Linked DNA regions of Homo sapiens: regions 2 and 3 are each linked to region 1. The links come from fine-mapping of genetic effects on gene expression. A gene starts in region 1. Each other region holds a variant in brackets. All regions are shown on one strand. Distances are between the middles of the regions. Region 1 holds the start of SRGAP1 (SLIT-ROBO Rho GTPase activating protein 1). Region 2 overlaps SRGAP1 (SLIT-ROBO Rho GTPase activating protein 1). Region 3 holds the start of LOC105369798 (a long non-coding RNA gene).

What was found. PIP is the estimated chance that this variant, and not a neighbour inherited with it, causes the effect.
Region 2: its variant is fine-mapped to the expression of SRGAP1 in subcutaneous fat (GTEx, PIP above 0.99). The same link has a PIP of 0.9 or more in aorta, atrial appendage, breast, esophagus muscle, fibroblasts and lung.
Region 3: its variant is fine-mapped to the expression of SRGAP1 in testis (GTEx, PIP 0.97).

Annotation. Positions count from the first base shown.
Region 1 is chr12:63,839,907-63,848,090 of GRCh38, reverse strand. SRGAP1 (SLIT-ROBO Rho GTPase activating protein 1) reads right to left here and starts at 3,391. Exons shown (of 22, transcript NM_020762.4): 1 at 3,208-3,391. The coding sequence starts at 3,274. RefSeq lists silencers at 3,549-3,808, 3,919-3,978, 4,039-4,458 and enhancers at 3,385-3,884, 3,885-4,386.
Region 2 is chr12:64,086,825-64,095,008 of GRCh38, reverse strand. SRGAP1 (SLIT-ROBO Rho GTPase activating protein 1) reads right to left here. Exons shown (of 22, transcript NM_020762.4): 11 at 7,983-8,010; 12 at 3,631-3,733; 13 at 17-77. Among named protein-coding and RNA genes, the nearest start is that of KICS2, 130 kb to the left of the region's middle. The variant T/C (reference allele first, on the strand shown) is at 3,429.
Region 3 is chr12:64,127,298-64,135,481 of GRCh38, reverse strand. It overlaps SRGAP1 (SLIT-ROBO Rho GTPase activating protein 1), which reads right to left. Exons shown (of 22, transcript NM_020762.4): 20 at 7,758-7,892; 21 at 7,282-7,621. LOC105369798 (a long non-coding RNA gene) reads left to right here and starts at 4,750. Exons shown (of 2, transcript XR_945018.2): 1 at 4,750-5,308. The variant A/G (reference allele first, on the strand shown) is at 4,257.

The DNA.
Region 1 (8,184 bases):
GAGGTTGCACTGAGCCGAGACCACGCCACTGCACTCTGGCCTGGGCAGCAGACCGATACTCCTTTTATATATATATATATATAAAATAAAAATTAAAGAATAAAAAAATTCCATATCTGAAGTCATTCCTTTAGGTCAAAACATTATCTCAAAAATTCTGAGATAAATAAAGTTGTTATTAGGGAAAATGGGAGAGAGTAACAGGGGAAAATATTCTAGAGTGTTAGGTTCTAAGTTAGAAGGTAGAAAAAAAAATACATATAATCAAAATGACTCTTGAAATCACCCACACACCTAAGTCACCTATAGAGTCCAATATGTATGTTTATTCATTGTGTTTTTCTTGAGACAGAGTCTCACTCTGTCAGCCAGGCTGGAGTGCAGTGGCGCAATTTCAGCTCACTGCAACTTCTGCCTCCCGGGTTCAAGCAATTCTCCTGACTCAGCCTCCAGGGTAGCTGGGACTACAGGCATGCACCACCATGTCCGGCTAATTTTTGTATTTTTAGTAGGGACAGGGTTTCACCATGTTGGCCAGGCTGGTCTCGGCCTCAAGTGATCCGCCCACCTCGGTCTCCCAAAGTGCTGGGATTACAGGCGTGAGCCACCGTGCCTGGCCTAGACTTATGTCTTAATGAGTCCCACACAGTCAGGTTTTCCTTTAGCAATAGAACAGAATTTTTTTTTATCATCAGATAAAGTTGCTGACTGTAATTTAAAAAGTAGTTTGTTCCAAATACATATACCTTTATTTATTTATTTATTTATTAGACAGAGTCTCACTCTGTCACCCAGACTGGAGTGCAGTGATGTGATTTCGGCTCACTGTAACCTCTGCCTCCTGGGTTCAAGTGGAACCACAGGCACACTGGGACCACAGGTGTGTGCCACCACACCTAGCTAATTTTTGTATTTTTTGGTAAAGATGTGGTTTCTCTACCAAAATGTTGGCCAGGCTGGTCTTGAACCCCTAACCCCAAGTGATCCGCCTGCCTCAGCCTCCTGAAATGCGGAGATTACAGGCATGCACCACTGCACCTGATCCCAAAACACATACCTGTAAATAACAGACTAGCACTCTGCGAGGGTACAGAAAAACCAGTCTTGTCTCCCATGCTGTCCTTACTAAGGGGCCTACTCTCCCTGCATTGGACAGCTGGCCTCATGTACTATTTATCTGTTATTTGTCTCCCACTCTCTTCTTGATTTGCCTAGAAGTACCAGGTGAATTTGTGCCATTTAATGCGTATATGATCTGACTCCATGATATTCCCTTATTCCCATGTTTGTGTATGGATGTAGTGATCTAGGTTAGATACTGGATGTGTAGGTACTGCAGGAGGAGGTAAAGCCTGGACTCAGGGCAGGGCAGGTGCAGTGAAGACTCCTAAAGCAGCCTAGGGACTCGTGGGTGTGTGGAAGGAAGAAGTGTTGAAGGAAATAGGGAGAAGGTCATTCTCTGTGGGACAGACTTAGCTCCAAATGTGATTTTCACCATGTTCATGATTTTTCTTCCGTTTGAATTTGATAGACACATTGCAACACATCCCATTTCGCTGATTTTCAAATAAGGACTTGATCACTGGCAAGTGACCTTACAGCAAACATAAAGAAATCAACATTTGGAAGTGCATTTGCCAATTAGTGCTCTAGGCGGCAGAAAAACCAGACCGCCACCCCTTGAAGACCTGCCACAAAGAGCCATGTGGAAAAACTGCACAGAGAAATGGTGGTTGTGAACAAGAGTACTGCCCTGGAATGAAAGGTTTTAGGCTATGTTGGACTCACTGAAAAAAGAAAGGTTAGTCTCATTAGAAAGTTTACCTGGCTCTAAGAAAATAATTACTTATCTGCTAACACAACTTCCATAGCAATGAAACAAGTTCCTGTAAGTATAAATTATCACAATTCCAAGCAGACAAAAATCTGTGTCTCCTGAACACATTATAGGGGTCAGCCTATAGATAACTCCATTATAGGGGTCCTCCTAAAGATAACCTAAGTTATCTTGCATATTGTGTCTGCAGTGTCCACAATGAGTTGGTCTGTATTCACACTGGATGATACAGGATTTCTCCACCAGGTCCTCTCACAGGACTCCAGGCATTTTTACAACTTGACCACACAAAAGAACACTCAGGCTGCTCCTCCCTTGCTCAAGGGAAGTACAGTAATGCCTCTCTCCGTAGCCCTTTCATAAGACTGTGCATAGATAAACACAGGTGTATACATAGCAATCTTTATGAACTTTGCATTGAATGTGTCAAAGAACAGTGGCGGTCCCAACATTCCATCCATTGTCTCAATCAGGAAAGCTACTCCTGAGACCTCAGGAAAGAGGAGGAAAAAATTCAAGTAACACATATGTTTACGAAACACTTCAGTAACAAAACAAAATACTTGTATTGGAGAGAAAATATATATATTTTTAATCACAAGGCATAGAAAGTAAAAATAATCAGCCTTAATTAGGTTTCCTTCATTAGTTGACAATGTAAATGGACTGAAACTACTACTCAAATATTCAAACCTTCATTTTACATGCAAGTGGCTTCCAGAAAATGATAAAGCAATATTCCCATGTGAGTGTGAAAGATGGCAATGAATTCTGGCCCATTATAAAGGAAGAGTCAGATTCCACTAGTCACTGCTTCGTTTAACTGCCAGGCTTTTAGGGAGCTATTTAATAAAAGGGGTCTCGCCCTAATAAATTGTGAGCGGTGTAAATAGGTGAGTGGTGTAAATATCTGAAATAGCCTGCACTCAATGAGGCTGTAGACCGCTTGGGGTTCACAGACTTTACAAAAATCATTCCGTAAAAAAATTACGTAGTGACAATCCTACCATTTAAAAAGAATAATGATGGTGATAATAATAGCTGGACAGGATCCTCCACTGCTGCCTGCTTCCCACATAAGTTGCCCAGCTGAAGGTGGTTAAGTTAAAGCCAGTTCTCTCCCCATTAGAGATGCGGGCTGGCAGCTGGCGGGGGAAGTCACCCAGTTTCCAGCTCCCCGTGGGTTTGACGGGACTGGGATTGCAACTGGGAACTAACTGGCTTGTAGGAAGCCCAGGTGGCTCAGACAGGGCTCGAGCTGTCCCCTCACCACCTTCCTCCCACGCAGACACCAAGTTAGATACGCAACTCCACGAGCACAATGACAAGAAGGCACACAAAAGGAGCAAGGCAGCCGCTCCCATCCTTACCTTTGACTTGACTTTCATACTCGGCTATGATCTCTTTGTCCTTCTTGAATCGGCTCGGGGTGGACATTATCCAGCTGTTCCGGGTTTGCTTTCAATGGGCAAGTTTTGTTCAGTGGTCACAACCCGTTCTCCTTGGAGAGGCAGAGTTGTACTCCCACACGCAGGCAATCCAGAGGCAGCGCCGACCCGAGGGAAGGGAGGAGGGAGAGGAGAAGTAGGAGGAGGAGGGGAAAAAGAGCGAGTAGAGAGGACTAGATTAGCCCGGGCGCTGGCACCATACTCTCGAAATTGAGCTCCGTCGGTAATCCCAGGGGATCCCCGGGGGAGAGGCCGGACGCGCAGGCAAACTCCAGCCAGCGAGTGGCGGGGGACGTCTCCCTGCCCACCTCGCCGGGAGCCCGGCCACTTCCTCTACGGCCGCTGGGCGGGCGCGGGGCTCGCGCCGGCGCTCCGCACCATTGTTCGAGACCCGCACCGGGCGCCCGGGACAGGGCCAGCGGCGGAGGGCAGGCGCTGGGAACGCGCCCAGCTCGGGCGCCACAACCCTCCCTTCCTGCCTCCAGCTGTCGGCTCCGGCGCTCAAGGGTCCCGCCCGGGCTGGGGATGCTGCTGCCACGGCCGCCGCTCCTCTGCCCGCAGACACTGCCGCTACAGCTCGGCAGGCGAAAGGAATCGCAGTCCTGACGCGAGTCCCCGCTGCTGCTGAGAGGGTGAAGGCGGCGACGCTCAGACGCGCCCTGGGCACAGCCCCGGCGGAGTTTAGGTCTCCAGAGCCGGCGCCGCGAGGGGCCTCTGCCTCCCTGGCCGCGGTGCGCCGAGGCTGCCTTTCTCTGCGTCCCCCTTTCCGCTGCTGCCCCCAGGAGGCCGCTAGTGACAGGCACACTCGCACACGCACGCGGGAGCCGCGCCCCCGGCGGCAGCAAAGTTGAGGGTGCGCACACGGCTCGCGCCTCGCGGGCGCCCGGCTAGCGATCTGCGGGCGGTGGCTCCTCGGGGCTCCGCCAGGCGGGGCCAGGCTCGCGGGAGCGGACCGCGCTCCGGCCTGTGCCCTTCTCCGTCCAAGCTCCCGCCCCTGCTCCGCTAGGAAACGCCTGGCTGGTCCGGGAAGATGGATGCCTCTTGTGGCCAACCGCAGCCCGGCCCCGCGCGCCGAGCCCAGGAGGCCGTGGGCGGCGCCCCCGGCACCTCCCTCCGCCGAGGCCCCGCACCTCCCTCCGCCGAAGCCCCGCTCCACCGCTAGCCGAGGTCGCGGCTCCGGCGGCAGGAAAACCCCTTCCTGACCTGAGGGACCGCCTTCTGGCTCTGGCGGGGGCTCTGGTGGGGCTTTTGCCAGAATCTAATGGGGAAGTCCAGAGTTGGATGTATCCATGACACAAAGGGATGTTACTCCGAGACGCTGGACCCCAATAGAAAAACTGAACACTGAATTGTGAATGACCTGGCTGTTAATCCAAAGAGCGCGAAGCTCTTCAATCGAGGCGGAGAAAAACACCCACCTTGAACACCATATCCTCTATTCCTACAGTAGATAGGGAAGCTAGGATGGTAGGAAAGCGATGGTATGGAAACACGTCACACTTAACGGCGTTGTTAGCTTATTTATTTACTAAACTCCAGATTTTATTCCAATTTTACCAATTTTTTCGACTAGTGTCATTTTTTCTGTTCCAAGATCCAACACAGGACACTACATTGCACTTAGTACTTTTACGGTTGTTTTTGTTTTTGTTTTTTGATTTTGTTTTTTGGGGGTTTTTTTTGAGACGGGGTCTCACTCTCGCCCAGGCTGGAGTGCAGGGGCACGAGCTCCGCTCACTGCAACCTCCGCCTCCCGGGTTCAAGTGATTCTCCTGGCTCAGCCTCCAGAGTAGGTGTGACTACAGGCGCCCGCCACCGTGCCTGGGTAATTTTTGTATCTTTAGTAGAAACAGGGTTTTGCCATGTTGGTCAGGCTGGTCTTGAACTCCTGACCTCAAGTGATCCGCTCACCTCGGCCTCCCAAAGTGGTAGGATTACAGGTGTGAGCCACGGCGCCCGGCCACGTTTTTAATAGATACCTTTTACAAGATCTATCGTGTCTAGTCTCTTTTTATTTTATTTGTTTGTTTGTTTTCATTTTAGTACAGACGGGGGTCTCCCTATGTTGTCCAGGCTGGTCTCAAACTCTAGTCTCTTTTTGAACAATATAACGAAGAATTTACCTTGCCATCTTTGCATGGTTCAGGTGTTGTGTTAAGTACTTTAAATCCATCCTTGCCAGCCTTTTAAATTTTTTTTTATTATTTTTACTTTTTTGTAGAGATGAAGCCTTGCTCTATGGCCCAGGCTGGTCTCAAACTCCTGGCCTCAAAAGATTCTGGCTGGGCACGGTGGTTTACACCAGTAATCCCAGCACTTTGGGAGGCCGAGGTGGGCAGATCACAAGGTCAAGAGTCCGAGACCAGCCTGGCCAACATGGTGAAACCCCATCTCTACTAAAAATATAAAACTTAGCCGGGCATGGTGGCATGTGCCTATAATCCCAGCTACTCAGGAGGCGGAGGCAGGAGAATCGCTTGAACCCAGGAGGTGGAGGTTGCAGTGAGCCAAGATTGCACCACTGCACTCCAGCCTGGGCGACAGAGGGAGACTCCTTCTCAAAAAAAAAAAAAAAAAAAAAAAAGAAAATCCTCCGACCTCAGCCTCCCAAAGCACTGGGATTACAAGCATCAGCCACCACACCTGGTTCTGTTAGCCTTTTTGACTCACACCACTTGAGATATTTACTGACTCCTTTCAAATCAATTCTCAAATATTATGGGCCTGATTTATCAAAATGATGTGTCCAAAGGTGTATCCCCTCAAGTGTTTTCCCCACAAGATCTAAAGAAAGTAGGGACTTTTAGACTTTGATCATTCTTTCATGTATCCAGTGATCGGCTCTCCAGTTCTTAACTCTGTGCCAAACACCACGCTAGGAACTAGGGATTCAAAGATTAAGACTGCCGGAAAGGATCATGCAGTCTATTACTGTATAAATAAATAATTACAAGCAGTACAATAATGCTGTAAGAGATAGAAATACTCCCAGTCTTGGGAGCACTGGGGATGGAAAAACAGACTGCATAAGAGGATTGGGTGTAAGAGTTCGCAGAGGAGTGGTTTTGAGCTGGATTTAAAGGATGAATAGTAAGTAGCTGGCAACTTTAGGGAGGAAAAGGGATGCATTCCAGGGAAAAGGAAGAGTGTTATACTCTAGAGGAATTGCAAATAGAGTGACAAGATATCTTCCACTAAGATACCAGATCTCTGCTAGATGGTGAAAAATAATGTAAAAAATTGTAATATATGTATATGCATGTGTCAGCTGATAGTATGTGGGTATGTGGACATTGTTAATTGCACTGCTTTTTTAAAATCTAATTTTAGCAAGTTTTTTTTACTTTATAGCAACAGAATATATGTAAAGAAAATATGCCAATTTTTTTTAAGTTTTTTTTTCAGTCTTTTTTTCATTTTACCACACAGGCAGTTATACTATGGCACCCCTGGCTGCCCTAATTTCACGTGGAGCTGTCTTATGTAAGAGTGTACGGTGAAGAGAAAGCAGAGGCTGGAAGGAAGGTCAGGGCCAGCTGGGAGAGTCCTCCTGTGCCATGCTAAGATCTTGGACACAGTTCTGCAGACAGCAGGGAGCCTTTTAAGTAGAGAAGTATCACGATCAGATTTGTGTTTTATAAAGATAACTGTTGGCAGTGTAGAAGGATGGGTTAGCCATAGAGAAAGAGAGACCAGGCAGGCAGCCTACTTAGGTGATAATCATAGTCACATCTAAATGGGATTCATATCCATGATGCTGTTGGGATTTGTTTCATATTTGCACCTGGGAAGCACAAGTTGACAGCAGAGATTGCAGCACCTAGAAATGAATTGTTGCCTGAGTCTAGACCTAAATCAGTGTGTTGCAAACAAGCCCCAGAGACAGGGTGCCCAGAGGTGAATCCTAAATCTGCTGTTTCCTAAGGGATCTGGTAAAAATTACTATTCTCTCTAGGCCTTAGTTTGTAAAATGGGTTACAAATTTTCCTTATCTGTAAAATTGGTTAATGCCTAAGTCCTGGGGATGTTATAAGCACTTACTGAGATAAACCCTTAAAAGTACTTGTAGGCCATGGTATACACCCAGTGAGTATTAGTTATCTTTACAATTATTATCTTAGTTTTACTCTTCCTAATAGAAAGCTATCTAAAAATCAGAGATAGGCTGGGCGTGGTGGCTCATGCCTGTAATCTAAACACTTTGGGAGGCTGAGGTGGGAGGATTGCTTGAGCCCAGGAGTACAAGACCAGCCTCATTTCTACAAAGAATAAATAAAGATCAGAGATAATGTTTCATCTTTAATTTTATTATGGTGTTCAATACACAGTCAATAAAATGTATTGAATATTAATGCCACCATTAGTAGGCCACCATTTTATTGTTGTTGAAGATGGGATATACCCACTAAGGTAAGAATTTTGCACACATTCTCAGAAGAACCCTACATGGCGGACACCATTGTCCTCATTTTACAGATGAGAATCTGGAGGCTCAGAAAATTCAGTAAATGTCTGGCCTGGCAGGGTCAGAATTCCAGTTCACATCTGCCTGTCTCCAAAGTGGGTACTCTTTCCAATTTTCCATTCCACTTCCTATGAACTTATGATTCCTTTAAACTTGTGAAGTGAGTTCAAATAAGTAAAATGTGTGTGACGGAGTCATGGGTTTCTATTGGTGGATCTCTTTTCTGATCCAACTGTTTAGTGTAATTAACAAGTCAATTAGTGTTTCCATTATTTTCTTTTAACTTTTTTTTTTTTTTTGACACAGAGTCTCACTTGCCCAGGTTGGAGTGCAGTGGCATGATCTCAGCTCACTGCAGCCTCCACCTCCTGGGTTCAAGTGATTCTCCTGCCTCAGCCTCCCGAGTAGCTGGGACTACAGGCACACACCACCAC
Region 2 (8,184 bases), 250 kb before region 1:
GTAGTTTATGGCTTACCATAGAGATTGATGAACCGAATACAGCTTTCCACAATGAGGGGAATAACCTGTCCTGAGTCCTGGGTAAAGGGATGGAAACCAGTTAACCTCAAGGGAGAGGTATAAATGCCTCATAATAATAAGGCTTAGAGTTTAACAGTAATTAAAGAGGGATTTTTGCAGTTCTGGAGCAAACCAAGTTAAATACATTTAAGGCAATTCTGTTTCAACTTACTTTGCTGTGCCTAGAGATGTCAAAACCTAATTCATCTCTTTTCTTATATTAAGACTTACATACCAAAATGAATATGTGAATAACTCATTTTTAAAAGCTTATTTATACAAGTGACCAATCTTTAATGGACTTAAAAAGAACTCTGTGTATTATAATCATAGCATCTTCAGTTTGATTCGCTATATTCATCATGAAAGACAACCTTTCAGCCATCTCAGGATTCTCTCTCTGACATCCCTGAGAGTGCATCACCTAGATGACAAGTCATAAAAGGGCTTCCATATCTATATATCTATAGATGCATAATATGAGAATTGTTACAGAGATAATTAAAACATGTATTTACTTAGTTTGCATCAGAACTTACAGATTTTTCATTCATACATTGTCATATTTTAAGGAATAAGAAAAAAATGGCACAACTGTATATCGCAGATTTGTTTTTTTAGAAAGGAACATTTTTGGGCCTTCTTTCCCCACATCTTGTAAAACAGTCACTGCCTTCTACTGAACAAATGTAAACCGTGGCAGTGTTTTAAAACATGTATAGGATGACAAATGAGATGAAGGGCTGCTGAGGCCACAGTTAAATATGTACCAATGCCATGTACTCCATGAAGTTAAAGAAGGTTACTGACTACAGAATTATTTTTCATGTGTTTTTAAGACTCTGCTTTTTCAGGAATTAGATCTTTTTTAAAAAGAAAGCCAAAAAAACAAAACCACAGGGCTCGAAAATGGTTAGCTGACATCAGGTATTAATTCGTGAGGAATTTTATTTTGAAATGCAAGAAAAAGTTGGTTGTCTTAATATATTAGAACAATTCAGAATCCATTAACCTTTCCAATTAAGCAGTGGGGGAAGGATTAAGAATAATGCAGTTCAGCAATTTAAACGCTTTACTATTCCTGGAATGGGTATTATACTTCTTAAGGAATTGTCTTATTTTAGGTTTTAACACAATCTAATCAGTGTATAAACCAGTTAATGGCTCAATTACTTCTGGAGACTGTATTAAGTTTTTCTAATTAGTTAATTTGTTTTAGGAGCACAAATTTTATTAATTTCTTAAAGAAGAGTCTTAAGAATAAAAACGCATTTTAGTGTGGACTAGTTGGCTCAGGAACAGCAATGTAATTACATCATAACTTACTGAATATGTGAAAGGATTTTTCTTTAAGATATAAGTGTTTTAGGGGAAGTAAACTATACGAACAATTCATGGAACACTAATCTGAAAGCAACATATTTTTAAATGTAAGTGATAAAAAGAGATCATTAGTTTACATCTCTGCTGAATTTAGTATTAAAAAGAAAAGCAAAGAATACAAGGTTATGAAAAGGAAAATGTTTGCACTAAGAAAGTTCTCAATAAAAAATGTCTTCGGTTTTCATATTTTTAAAAAATGTTTTTGTGTTTACATTTACTAATTGCTTTTTAAAAAAGCTATGATCAGTATTTCATTCAGATATAATTAATTTTGTAGTCAAAAAGTAATGAGTATATGTGATTTAATTTAATTTAATTTTACAGATTTCAGATGCATGGGTAGAAAACATAAGAAAATATTTTATAAGAACAATGGGGGTGCATTCCATCTATCATTCAAACTAATCCCTTGGTGTCGGTTTTCCCAAGAGAAAAAAGAGAAAAAATGGTTTTGCTCTTGCTGTCTTCACAGTGACATTGTGGAGATTGCAAGTGATCAAGCCCTTTTTAGAAGTGGAAAGGAGCCCTCTGTATTGTTTCTATTACCAAAGATTCTTCAATGTGCCATCTGGGCTGTGAAGAGCTCCTATAAGTGAATTTTCCATGATAGCTGGTTTATTTATTCTTTGGTACCTCAATTTACTTTCATTTAACTGCTCTTAATGAAAAATTGAAAAAATATGTAATATGTGCTTTTCTATCATCTTAAGCAGCCATTCTCGTACTGTATTATCAAATACAACAGAATCCTACGTCTGCTTCTTGCAGCTTTTCTATATTCTCTTTCTCTGCCAGGCCATCAGCTGCATATCTCATTGCTTTCATTTTATCGTTCCTCTCTCTCCATATAATTTGTCCCTGCTTATAAGCCAGGGGCTGGGAAAATAGGTAATCAAATTTGACAATAATTTTATATTAAATTAGAGCCAATAAGGTTCTTCTGGATTTAAGGCTTAAGGCAGTAGATCTGTAACTGCTATTTAGGTTCTTCAGTGGCTTTCCACTTAATTCCAGAGTAGGGCTGATTTTTAAGGCTGCCAGAGGTTTTTAATCTATGTACATATGTATGTATGTATGTATGTATGTATGTATGTATATATGTATGTATGTCCTTATACATGCCACATGCACATTTATTTAATTATTAGTACACATATTCAATAAACAGACCTAAGAAAGTAAGACGTCTGTAATATATCATTAAGGGAGGTTATTAATGACATGGTTTCTCAGATAAACTTAGTTTGCAGAAACACCGCAGCCCATGCCATAAAATGTGAACTACAAAGGAGAAAGCAAGCCCTTTTCTTTTTTGTAAAATTCACACTAGGGTCCATAATCCAGTATTAAATGTGTATTTGGTATTTAACATTGACTTTCCCTAATAAAGCCCTTGATCAAACTTGATACATTTGCCAAACACATAATGTAAAAACTAATAGTTTAATGTGCCCATTTTTCCTCTAGTGTTTGATTGCTACAGTTTCTAAGTAAAACCTATTTATAAACTTGTCTGATTTCCAAATGCAAACATTTTTCTTTTAAAAACCTTAACAATCTAATTAAAGCCAAGCATGAGCACGACTTGAAAATGATACCAACAGTGAAAGAGCACCCTCACGTCCCTCTAGCACTATACCTGATGTCTTGTGTGCGAGTTTCTTCGTCCTCGGCTAGAAGCATTATCAGAAATACAGGATGAAAAAGAAGACGAAGAGTAAACACAGCAGAGGTACAAGGTATAGATCATAGTCTTACAATTCATTCAATATAATGAATTCCTCAAGTCATGGGAAATCAAAACTCCTGCTGTGTTTCAGAGCTATCCTAACAAGCAGACTTTAAAGAATATTTTGTGCCATCTCATTTGCATGAGTAAAAATACAACATTTTTATCAGGTTGCTTTTTAACTTTCTGTACAAATTATGGCTCTTTTTAAAAAAATAAAGAAAGAGGGCTTTCTTTTATGCCCACATAATAATAC[T/C]CACATTTATTCTCTCTTCTGAAGGCACTCGACCCAAATATTCTTTCCTCTCTGACTTCAGGAAATATTATATTGATTTTCTGGGAAAGCAAAGAGCCCCAGGACAGACTTGGACATAATGACCTTCCTCCTCTTACAAGAGGCTGAGACCATTATAGTAAGAAGCATGGAGATCAGCCACCCAGATGGCTGGTGCCAGTACCTTGACGAATGTTTCCAAATCCCCATTAAACAACTTAGTATTATACTGTGAGCGGGGCCTGGACTTCCTGTGTTTCTGGGGCTTAGGGGGAACATTTGGAGGCCTAAGGGAAGGGAATATAATTACTGAGCATGGCAGAAATCAAACAATAAATGAAACATCTATAGGTCACATCAATATTACAAAACACGGGAATCTTGGGTTCCTTCCCCTCCCCCAATCACAGGGGAAAACATTCCCTCCCATTTCCCATTTATTTACTTTCACTTCTGTATCAAAAAACATACAAATTGTTTATTCACACTGCTGTTTCCCTGTATGCTGCAGCTGACATTTGTTTGTTTGCTGGTTTGTTTTAAAATAAGCACTACCAAGTAGACTCGTTAGCTATTTGGCCAAATGTTACAAACCAGCATTCTTGTTATTTGGTTTACAAGTCACACAGTAAGATACAACCGGTCATAAAGATTAGGGCTCCGGTAGATCCCCAAATGAGGAATTAAATATAACATTTTTAGGTACACATAATTTTTTTTTTTAAGTCAGAGTCTTGCTCTGTTACCCAGGCTGGAGTGTAGTGGAATGATCATGGCTCACTGCAGCCTCCACCTTCTTCTGGGCTCAAGGGATCCTCCCACCTCAGCCCAAGTAGCTAGGACTACAGGCGCATGCCATCATGCCCAGCTAATTTTTAAATTTTTTATAGAGACGGAGTCCCCCTGTGTTTTCCAGGCTGGTCTTGAACTCCTGGGCTCAAAAGATCCTTCCACCTTGGCCTCCCAAAGTGCTGGAATTATAGGCGTGAGCCACCTCACTCAGCCCAGCAAACCAATGCAAGTAACATCACATCTGTTCGATACCCCTCCAGCAGTAATGGAATTTTATTTCATGCAAAAGTAACTATTAATAGGTCACAAGTGAGAAAAATAATTTGGGTTCACTGCTTTTTCTAATTTGGGGGACATACAGGCTCGCATGAGTTATTATTTCTTTAGAACAAACTATTCCACCACCTAAATATCTGAGGATGTACTTGTTTATGCCACTGCAGACTCTCTTCCTCTCCAGTCTGCCCATTTGCTCTGGTGAATAAACCATTCTCTCTGACATATGCACATCTAGTGCAGCATGTAGTATATTTAGAAACTGTGACATCTTGCCCTGTGACTGCAGAGAGGGAACCTCTTCTGCTCTCTCCCTTTAGTGGAAAGAAGGCCAGAATTACCTGACTCAACTTCTACTACTGTGCTGAATGAAATACATGGAAGGAGAGCCCTGAGACCTGTCTCTGGATGTTTTAATGTAAAACTCCTTTTTAACTGCAAGACTTATAGGAGGATACACACCACACCAGGAAATTGTGTAAAGCCCTTCATTAAGCTTCAGACTCTAGGAAAATTTATCTTTTTTAGTTCATTTAGCTTAAGTTCAGAAAGTCTGGTTCATATACCAGATCCCAAGAAGTTACGTGGAAGCCTGACTAGCTTCCTTAGACACTATCATGTATGGAAACAAACCTACTGGTACAGCCTTCCACAGCTAAATTCTAAGACCCTCCCAGCAGATGGGCTCATATGATGAACAAGGTGCACAGCAAGCAGCACCTGAAGTTCTACAGTGCTGGCGAGGTTAAAAGAAGCCTTTGCAAGTGTCTAGGAGAGAATATGGAAACTTCTACCAGGCAACATGTCATCTCCTGCCACGGATGAAATTTCTGAGATCTCTTTTATACACTGAGTTCTGGCCATTCATGGAGGAAATAATCTGATAGGAGTAAAAAGAACAAAACAACCAACCACCAAAGCATTTAACCCTACATACTTGATTTCATCCACTCCTTTCACTATTTTAAAAGTGTTTTAAAGTGTGGATTTCATTTTTATTCAGGTACGGGGAGGCCAACGTTCAGGAGACAACTACCACTGAAAAGATAGTTTGTTAAAGAGTTGGGGATGTGCCCCACCACCAGGGAGGCCACAGAAGGAAGCACCGGGGTGGGTCAGGAGGCAGAAGGCACAAAGGAAAATGTGGGCAGGAGTCTTTATTGTGGTTCCCACTGGAGGGAATGGGAGAAGCTGGGCAAGCAGGTTTAGAATAGGCTAGTTGGAATGATTCCAGTGGGCTTTGGGGCATAGGGACTATCCCTAAGTTGTCCTATACCTGGCCTTGGGGTGATTAGGGAAGGGGAATAGTGGCCGTGAGTGTCAGAACCATGAAGGAGGTGGTTGGAGGTAGGTCGTCTGGATCACCTGGCTTGCATACAAAAGGCACACTTGGCAAGCCAGTTCTTACTACTACTGCTAGGAATTGGCTAATCCCGGGAGGGGCAGTACTTCTGGGGTCAGAAAGTCCCCAATATACCAAAGCATTAAAAAACTAGAAAATGTGGTTATTACAATAAGGTCCAAGAGAGCTTCACATCTGGTGATATCTGGAGAAGCTGACAAAGCTAAGCAGATTAGAATTTTGTTTGGTCACTGATTCACGGAGCAAGCCAATCTTGTAGACGGAGCCAAAAACCTCCAATGCACTGAATCATTGTCCCCGCATGACTGGGAGACGCAGGGTAATGCTGGCTAATGGAGGGATATCTTTTGAGTCTTCTATGAAAGGCCTGAAAATCACCTCTGTAGGATTCTATAGTACGGTAAATATGAACGCATGCAAGTTGTGAGAGGAACCTGGAATGAAAACGAATTGCCTCAGTGCTTATCAAAGTAATTTCCATGGCAGAGGTCTGATGATTCTTGCTCTGCTACACCCACATCAAGTGAACAGAGCCAGGGACGTTCAACATTCCAATTGCGTGACTCATTCTGATTCTGTGGCTACCACATGACTTCCTGATAATTTGGTTTCCTACAGAGGATGCCCACATGAGAGGAAGTACTGGTCAGGTTGATGTGAATATCTAGTCTATTTGGCAATTATAGCTCTCATGGCAAATTAATATATTTCCATTTCTGCTTTTTAAAAAAATCTCTTTTTTTGAAGTGCCTTACAGTAATTATAATTGAGAAACAACAGGTAAAATAATTGATAGTGCAAGGAGATGCTATAGGTGAAAAACATCTCTATAAGCTGCATATTACCAGGTCGAGGTAATAGTCTTCTTTTTCACTGACACAGTGAAGAAAAACCTCAGTGTTTTTTTCTTTTGTTAGGTTTGGAAAAGTCAGGAGCTGTATCTTTCTAGTTGGTTTACCATGAAGTACGAGGGGCTTCCTTATGAATAAGCTGCCCAGCAATAACATTATAGATCCTTGAAAGTCAACTTGCCAATTACTGCAGCAGATATACCAGTGTTCTAAATGCGTCTTATTTCAAAGAGAACTCAATTTCAAAAATGCAACATCTTGCTATGCTAATTAGATAATTTCTGTCTGTTGCACAAATGGTGACATAGAAAAATAAAAGTTGCCACAAACTTTCCCGAACCCAAATCAGAATCTGCTGCCCAAATGGCTTTCCTTTCTTGTAGTAGCTTCACAATCCTCCCCTGAATGAAGAAAGTACAATATGGGAGTATGTGTTAAAAGTTAAATGTTTAAAGTGAATCAAAATGGAGAATATATAGACAGCTAAAATCCTAAAGATATTCAATATAGCTCAAATTTTTATTTTTATTTTTTATTTTTATTTTTTGAGATGGAGTCTCGCTCTTGCCCAGGCTGGAGTGTGGTGGCGCAATCTTGGCTCACTGCAACCTCCGCCTGCCGGGTTCAAGTGATTTTCCTGCCCCAGCCTCCTGAGTAGCTGGGATTACAGGCGCACACCACCACGCCCGGCTAATTTTTTGGTATTTTTAGTAGAGACAGGGTTTCACCACATTGGCCAGGCTGGTCGTGAGCTCCTGACCTCAGGTGATCCACCCGCCTCAGTCTCCCAAAGTGCTGGGATTACAGGCTGAGCCACTGCACCCGGCCAGCTCTAATGTTTATATGACTAAAGGAAAATAGGAACAGAAAATAATTGTACTTTCTACTTACTTATGCAGTAGATGTACACGTCGTATTTTTTTTTTAATTAAACTATCAAATCAAAAGTCCTGTCACGCTATTTAGAAACAGTTAAAGTATTCTGGATTAGATAAACCAAGCCGGTTTAACTTAGGTTTTTGTTACTGTCTCTGCCTATTAAAGAGCTTTACAATTCCAGAGGGAAACAAAAATAAGCTAGAACATACCTAGTCTTGTAAGAAGCCCAAACATTTCATGTTGCTATGCTTTGTCAAGCCAAAACTATCTCCCGTATTCATTAACAAAATGTTAATTCTTTCAGCATTGAAATGGTTGCTTCTTGTTAAAGAGAAAGTAAAATACGCTATAAGTTATGATAAAATATTTTCCTACCTTGTAGTCATATATTCAGCTCTATGACCTGCAGGAAAAAAATTTAAAGTAAGTAAACTGAAAGGAATCAGCAGAGTGTATGTGGTACTCTTTTGTATCTCCTATCCGGTATTTTAAAACACTGAGTTTGTAATAACTTACACGTTTTTATGGCAGAAAACATGAGGATAGCATATGAAGATAGACACATAATTCAGTGTAA
Region 3 (8,184 bases), 290 kb before region 1:
AGTGGACAAAGTGATGAAAAAAAATGATGAACTCAAGGATTCTATCTCCTGGCTTCAGAAGCAGATACTGAACCTCAAATCTGCTAAGACTGCCCTGAGTGTGAGTCTTATCTCCCACAGATAAAGAACTAAAATTATGGAGAACCAGACACGAGTTCTTATGCAAGTCGCTGACCTGCAATGAAAGATACATGCACAGCCTCACCAGGTGTCTACTGTTAAAGTGAGGGCATTGATTAGAAAAGAATGGGACCCTGCAACTTGGAATGGGGATGTGTGGGAGGACCCTGATGAAGCTGGGGGCACTGAGTTTGTAAACCCTGATGAACCTTTTTTGCCAGAAGAAACAGCTTCCCTATCCCCAGTAGCGGCAACATCCCCTCCCTGACCCATGCTGCCATCAGCCTTTCCACCTTTGTCTGAGGAGATAAACCCTGTGCTGCCTGAGGCAATGGTGATGGCCTCCCATGAGGCAGCTGCCAGGCAAGATAATGTTGACTCTCCTCAGGAGCCACCTCCAACACTTCTGTTTGCTTCTAGACCTGTAACTAGACTAATATCCCGGCAGGCCCCTGGAGGTGAGGTTGAGAGTGTGACCCATGAAGAGGTGTGCCACACTAGAAAAGAACTGCTTGAGTTTTCTAATTTATATAAATAGAAATCTGGATAACAGGCATGGGAATGGATATTAATGGTGTGGGATAATGGTAGATGGAACATAGAGTCAGATCAGGCTGAATTTATTGATTTGGGCCCATTAAGTAGGAGCTCTGCATTTAATGTTGCAGCTCGGGGAGTTAAAAAAGGTTCTAATAGTTTATTTGCTTGGTTAACTGAAATATGGATTGAAAGATGGCCCACTGTGAGCACTGTGAGTGAGCTGAAAATGCCTGCTCTCCCTTGGTTTAATGTAGAGGAAGGGATCCAAAGGCTTAGGGAGATTGGGATGGTGGAGTGGATTAGTCACTTTAGACTTACTCATCCCAGCTGGGAGAGTCCTTGACCAATGCCTTGCAAAACAGATTTGTGAGAGCAGCACTTGCATCTTTTTTTTTTTTTTTGAGATGGAGTCTTGCTGTGTCGCTCAGGCTAGAGTGCAGTGGCGCAATCTTGGCTCACTGCAAGCTCTGCCTCCCGGGTTCACGCCATTCTCCTGCCTCAGCCTCCCAAGTAGCTGGGACTACAGGCACCCACCACCACTCCCAGCTAATTTTTTAGATTTTTAGTAGAGACGGGGTTTCACCATGTTAGCCAGGATGGTCTCAATCTCCTGACCCCGTGATCTGCCTGCCTTGGCCTCCCAAAGTGCTGAGATTATAGGCATGAGCCACCGCACTTGGCCAGCACTTGCATCTTTGAAGAGCCCTGTAATTGCTGTTCTCTGTATGTCAGATCTAACGGTGGGAACCACAGTCACTCAACTACAAAATTTAAATACAATGGAGATAATTGGATCCCAAGGTAGCAGGAGCCAAGTGGCAACACTCAATCATCAAAGGCAAGGCGACACTCAATCATCAAAGGCAAGGTGGGCATAGCTACAGTAATGCACAGCAGAGGCAAAGCAGCAAGCAGAATAGTCTGACTCGTGTAGAACTCTGGCATTGGCTAATTAATCACGTTGTTCCTAAAAGTGAAATTGATAGGAAGCCTACTGCATTCCTACTTAATTTACACAAGCAGAAAACTTCTAGGTTGGATGGACAAAAGACTAATTTGAATTATGAAAACAGAGAATCATGGCCCCTCAATCAATTTCCAGACTTGACCCAGTTTACAGACCCAGAACCCCTTGAATGAAGAGGAGGCCAGGTCCCTTTGAGGAAGGACCCCGCTATATTACTGACAATTTATGCAGTGAATCTTTATCCCATCCTTCCCCAAGGGGACCTCCAGCCTTTTACCAGGGTAACTGTGTAATGGGGAAAGGGAAATGATCAGACATTTTGGGGACTAATGGACACTGGCTCTGAGCTGACACTGATTCCAGGGGACCCAAAATGTCGTTGTGGTGCTCCAGTTAAAGTAGTGGCTTGTGGAGGTCAGGTAATTAATGGAGTTTTAGCTCAGGTCTGACTTACAGTGAGTCTAATGGGTCCCCAGACTTCTCCTGTGGTCATTTCCCCAGTGCCAGAATGCATAATTGGCACAGACATACTTAGCAGCTGGCAGAACCCCCACATTGGCTCTGGACTGGTAGGGTGGGGGCTATTATGGTGGGAAAGGCCAAATGGAAGCCATTAGAGCAGGCTTTACCTAGAAAAATAGTAAATTAAAAACAATATTGCATCCCTGGAGGGACTGTAGAGATTAATGCCACCATCAAGGACTTGAAAGATGCAGGGGTGGTGATTCCCACCACATCCTCATTCAACTCTCCCATTTGGCCTGTGCAGAAGACAGATGGATTCTGGAGAATGACAGTGGATTATTGTAAGCTTAACCAAGTGGTGACTCCAAGTGCAGCTGCTGTACCAGATGTGGTTTCATTGCTTGAGCAAATTAACACATCTCCTGGTATGTGGATTGGAGCCACTGACTTGGAAAATGCCTTTTTCTCCATTCTTGTCCATAAGGCCCACCAGAAGTAATTTGCTTTCAGCTGGCAAGGCCAGCAATATACCTTTACTGTCCTACCTCAGGGGTATAGCAACTCTCTGGCTTTGTGTCATAATCTTACTCGGAGAGACCTTGATTGCTTTTTGCTTCCGCAAGATATTACACTGGTCCATTACATTGATGACATTATGCTGACTGGATCCAGTGAGCAAGAAGTAGCAAACACACTGGACTTATTGGTGAGACATTTGTGTGCTAGAGGATGGGAAATAAATCTGACTAAAATTCAGGGACCTTCTACCTCAGTAAAATTTTTAGAGGTCCAGTGGTGTGGGGCCTATCAAGATATTCCTTCTAAGATGAAGGATAAGTTGCTGCGTTTGGCCCCTCCTGCAAACAAGAAAGAGGCACAACGCCTAGTGGGCCTATTTGGATTTTGGAGGCAACACGTTCCTCTTTTGGGTGTGTTACTCTGGCCCATTTATCGAGTGACTCAAAAGGCTGCCAGTTTTGAGTGGGGTCCAGAACAGGAGAAGGCTCTGCAACAGGTCCAGGCTGCTGTGCAAGCTGCTCTGCCACTTGGGCCATATGACCCATCAGATCCAATGGTGCTTGAGGTGTCAGTGGCAGATAGGGATGCTGTTTAGAGCCTTTGGCAGGCCCCCATAGGTGAATCACAGCGGAGGCCTCTAGGATTTTGGAGCAAGGCCCTGCCTTCTTCTGCAGATAACTGCTCTCCTTTTCTTTTTGAGATGGAGTCTCTGTCTGTCACCCAGGCTGGAGTGCAGTGGCGTGATCTTGGCTCACTGCAACGTCACCTCTCTGGTTCAAATGATTCTTCTGCCTCAACCTCCCGAGTAGTTGGGACTACAGGCGTGTGCCACCACACTTGGCTAATTTTTGCATTTTTAGTAGAGATCGGGTTTCACCATATTGGTCAGGCTGGTCTTGAACTCCTGACCTCGTGATCTACCCGCCTTGGCTTCCCAAAGTGCTGGGATTACAGGCATGAGCCACTGCGCCTGGCCAACTACTCTCCTTTTGAGAGACAGCTCTTGGCCTGTTACTGGGCTTTGGTGGAAACTGAACGTTTGACCATGGGTCATCAAGTCACCATGCAACCTGAACTGCCTATTATGAACTGGGTGCTTTCTGACACATCTAGCCATAAAGCGGGTCGTGCACAGCAGCATTCCATCATCAAATGGAAGTGGTATATATGTGATCGAGCTCATGCAACTCCTGAAGGCATAAGTTACATGAGGAAGTGGCTCAAATGCCCAGGCTGCACTGATGGCCTCATGGGGAGTTCCCTATGATCACTTGACAGAGGAAGAGAAGACTAGGGCCTGGTTCACAGACGGTTCTGCATGATATGCAGGCACCACCCGAAAGTGGACAGCTGCAGCACTACAGCCCCTTTCTAGGACATCCCTGAAGGACAGTGGTGAAGGGAATCTTTCCCAGTGGGCAGAACTTCGAGCAGTGCACCTGGCTGTGCACTTTGCATGGAAGGAGGAATGGCCAGATGTGTGATTATACACTGATTCGTGGACTGTAGCCAATGGTTTGGCTGGATGGTCAGGGACTTAGAAGAAGTATGATTGCAAAATTGGTGACAAATTTGTGGAAGAGGTATGTGGATGGACCTCTCTGAGTGGTCAAAAACTGTGAAGATATTTGTATACCATGTGAGT[A/G]CTCACCAACGGGTGACCTCAGCAGAGGAGGATTTTGATAATCAAGTGGATAGGATGAGCCATTCTGTGGACACCATTCAGCCTCTTTCCCCAGCCACCCCTGTTCTTGCTCAATGGGCCCATGAACAAAGTGGCCATAGTGGCAGGGATGGAGGTTACTCATGGGCTCAGCAACATGGACTTCCACTCACCAAGGCTGACCTGGCTATGGCCACTGCTTAGTGCTCAATTTGCCAGCAGCAGAAGCCAACACAGCCCTCGATATGGCACCATTCCTCAGGGTGATCAGCCAGCTACCTGGTGGCAGGTTGATTACACTGGACCTCTTCCATCATGAAAAGGGCAGAGGTTTGTCCTCACTGGAATAGACAGTTACTCCGGATATGGGTTTGCCTATCCTGCACACAATGCTTCTGCCAAGACTACCATCTGTGACTCATGGAATGCCTTATCCACCATGATGGTATTCCACACAGCATTACCTCTGACCAAGGCACTTACTTTATGGCTAAAGAAGAGTGGCAGTGGGCTCATGCTCATGGAATTCATGGGTCTTACCATGCTCCCTATCATCCTGAAGCAGCTGGATTGACAGAATGGTGGATTGGTCTTGTGATGTCACAATTGCAACACCAACTAGGTGACAATACTTTGCAGGGCTGGGGCAAAGTTCCCCAGAAGGCTGTGTATGCTCTGAATCTGTGTCCAATACATGGTGCAGTTTCTCCCATAGCCAGGATTCACGGGTCCAGGAATCAAGAGGTGGAAGTGGAAGTGGCACCATTCATCATTATCCCTAGTGACCCCCTAGCAACATTTTTACTTCCTGTTCCCGCGACATTATGTTCTGCTGGCCTAGAGGTCTCAGTTCCAGAGGGAGGAATGTGCCACCAGGAGACACAGCAACAATGCCATTGAGTTAAGATTGCCACCTGGACACTTTGGGCTCCTCCTACCTTTAAGGCAACAGACTAAGAAGGGAGTTACAGTGTTGGCTAAGGTGACTGACTCAGACTATCAAGATGAAATCAGTCGACTACTCCACGATGCAGGTAAAAAAGAGTGTGCATGGAATACAGGAGATCCATTAGGGCGTTTCTTAGTATTACCACGCTCTGTGATTAAGGTCAATGGGAAACTACAATAGCCCAATCCAGGCAGGACTACAAATGGCCCAGACCCTTCAGGAATGAAGGTTTGGGTCACTCCGCCAGGAAAACAACAACAACAACAACAACAACAACAACAACCACGACCTGCTGAGGTGCTTGCTGAAGGCAAAGGGAATACGGAATGGGTAGTAGAAGGTAGTCATCAATACCAGCTATGACCACGTGGAAACAGGGACTGTAATTGTCATGAGTATTTCCTTCTTTCGTTAAAAACATGTTTGTGCATGTATACACTTGTACTAGGAAAATATCTTCATTTTATTTCCTTTTTCCTTTAGCATGTGACATAAGATTATATTGACTTCCTATCAGCATTTAAGTATTGTTAACTTTATGTAATAGCATTTGGGTTGGGGATTGGTGTGTTTCCGGTTATAGGAAAGGACAGTTGTATCATGTTAGGCGTAATTATGACATTATTGTTTTTATTTGAAGATTATGTACGATCTCAGGAGATGTTTATGGGTTCAAGTTGACAAGGGGTAGACTTGTGATGGTTAATACTGAGTGTCAACTTGATTGGATTGAAGGATGCAAAGTGTTACTCCTGGGTGTGTCTGTGAGGGGGTTGCCAGAGGAAATTAACATTTGAGTCAGTGGGCTGGGGAAGGCAGACCCACCCTTAATCTGGATGGGCACCATCTAATTAACTGCCAGTGAACATAAAGCAGGCAGAAAAACATGAAAAGGTTAGACTGGCCTAGCCTCCCAGCCTACGTCTTCCTCCCGTGCTGTATGCTTCCTGCCCTTGAACATCAGACTCCAAGTTCTTCAGTTTTGGAACTTGGACTGGCTCTCCTTGCTCCTCAGCCTGCAGATGGCCTATTGTGGGACTCTGTGATTGTGTGAGTTAATACTTAATAAACTCCCCTTTATATGTATATATATTCCATTAATTCTGTCCCTCTAGAGAATCCTAATATACCTAGGTAATTAAAAAAAAATTTTTTTTTTTAGACACGGGATTTTGCTATATTGACCAGGCTTGTCTCAAACTCCTAACCTCAAGCTATCTTCTTGCCTCAGCCTCCTAAAGTGTTGGGATTACAGGTGTAAGCCACCCACTAGGCCTACGAACATATGTTCTCATGGCCTGTGCTGTGAAAAGAGCCAGAACCAGAGGGAAAAATGGTAGAATGATGGGCAAATTTATTAGTATTGTTTCCCTTTTACTTGGTCAATTTTAGTCATTAGAAGAAAACTACACAGCCCCTCTGCAGTCACTGTTGGGAAGCAAAGACCTGAATGTGTTCAGGAGGTACATAGGATCCAGACTTGTTCTTCAAATATCTATCTATTATTGATCACATTATTTATTAGGTCTCATCTTTTCTAAGTTGAAAGTGCCATCTTTATCATATACAGTAGGGGTTTGCACTATCTGTGGCTTCAGGCATCCACTGGGGGTCTTGAAACATATGCCCTGCAGATAAGGAGGGACTACTGTTTTAAGGTTTTTCTGTTTCTGGGCTCTCCATTCTGTTTCATCCATCTGTCTGTTTTACTAGCTTTAGAATGCATTTAGGATCTGGCAGGGCCACTGCTTTCCCATTCTTCTTTTTCAAAGTTTTTCTGGCTATTCACAATGATAGGTTTGAGTGTCCTGGTCCTACGTTTTTGTCATGTTTCTGTTTAAATCACTATGAACCTTTGGGCCCTTTCAGTAACAAATTGTTCAAAAAAGACTCAGGGCCTAAGTTAAAGAATGAGCTGGTTTTGTTTCTGTTTTCTTTAGTTGGTTCTATACAGAAATATAAAGTAAATAAAGTAAAAAGTAAATAAAGTAAATCTTTCACACCTCCTACATCACACTTAGGTACTTAAAATGCAATATGTAATTAAAAGCATCGTACCTGAGCAATTGTCTCTGGGTCCAGTGGCTTGTGGTCATTGAAGCCCGTGTATTGCCCTGATGACGTGGACCTTCTAATGGGAGGGCTGTCGATCTTCTTGAGGGAGTCGTGCCGGCTGATGTTGGTCAGGCTGCCATGGCCAGGCCTGCGCCTCCGCTCAGGACTGTCATTGTTGAGGCCACGGTTCTGCAGCAGGCCCCGGGGGTGACTGGCAAGGCTTGGGGACCCTAGGTCAACTGAGGAGTTAGAAAGGGCATGTGGAGGGTGGAGCGGGCAATGGCCATCACTGGTCCTGCCAGGACGCCTTACTGGAGGGGGTGGCTCTCCTCTTTTTCGTTGCCTAGACATTCACAGAAACAGGGAGAAAACAGAAGAGCTTATCACACCGGGCAGTACTGCAAGGCTGAGGTGCAGTGGCTCCTCATGGCCCCAGGAGGAGCGGAGGCTTAGGGGCCTGATTCCCAGGCTCTACTTACCTGGCTAAATAGCCGTCAGGATGACGGTCTGTCGGGGAGTTCATGTCCTTGGATGAGGACTTGTCTTCCGTGACTGGCCCACTGCTGGCCTCACTGTCGGCTTTTTGGCTCAGAGTGTCTGAAAACGTATCATCCCTGAAGCAGTAAGAGGAATGGAGACAAAATTTACTAGATTTACAAATTTTACAAAATTTGCTAGATGAGTGGAGATGAAAATTTACGTGATAGCATTTATGTATGAAATAGCATTATGCATGAAAGCCCTTCTTTTATTAAAATAACTTTTCTCTTTTCATTATAAAAGCAATACAATTTCATTACAGGTACAACAGCAATTTCAGTTATACAAAAAAGACTGAAATAATCACCCATAATATAACATCCAGAGACAACTACTGTTAGAATTTTAAGAAATATCCTCCTCCAT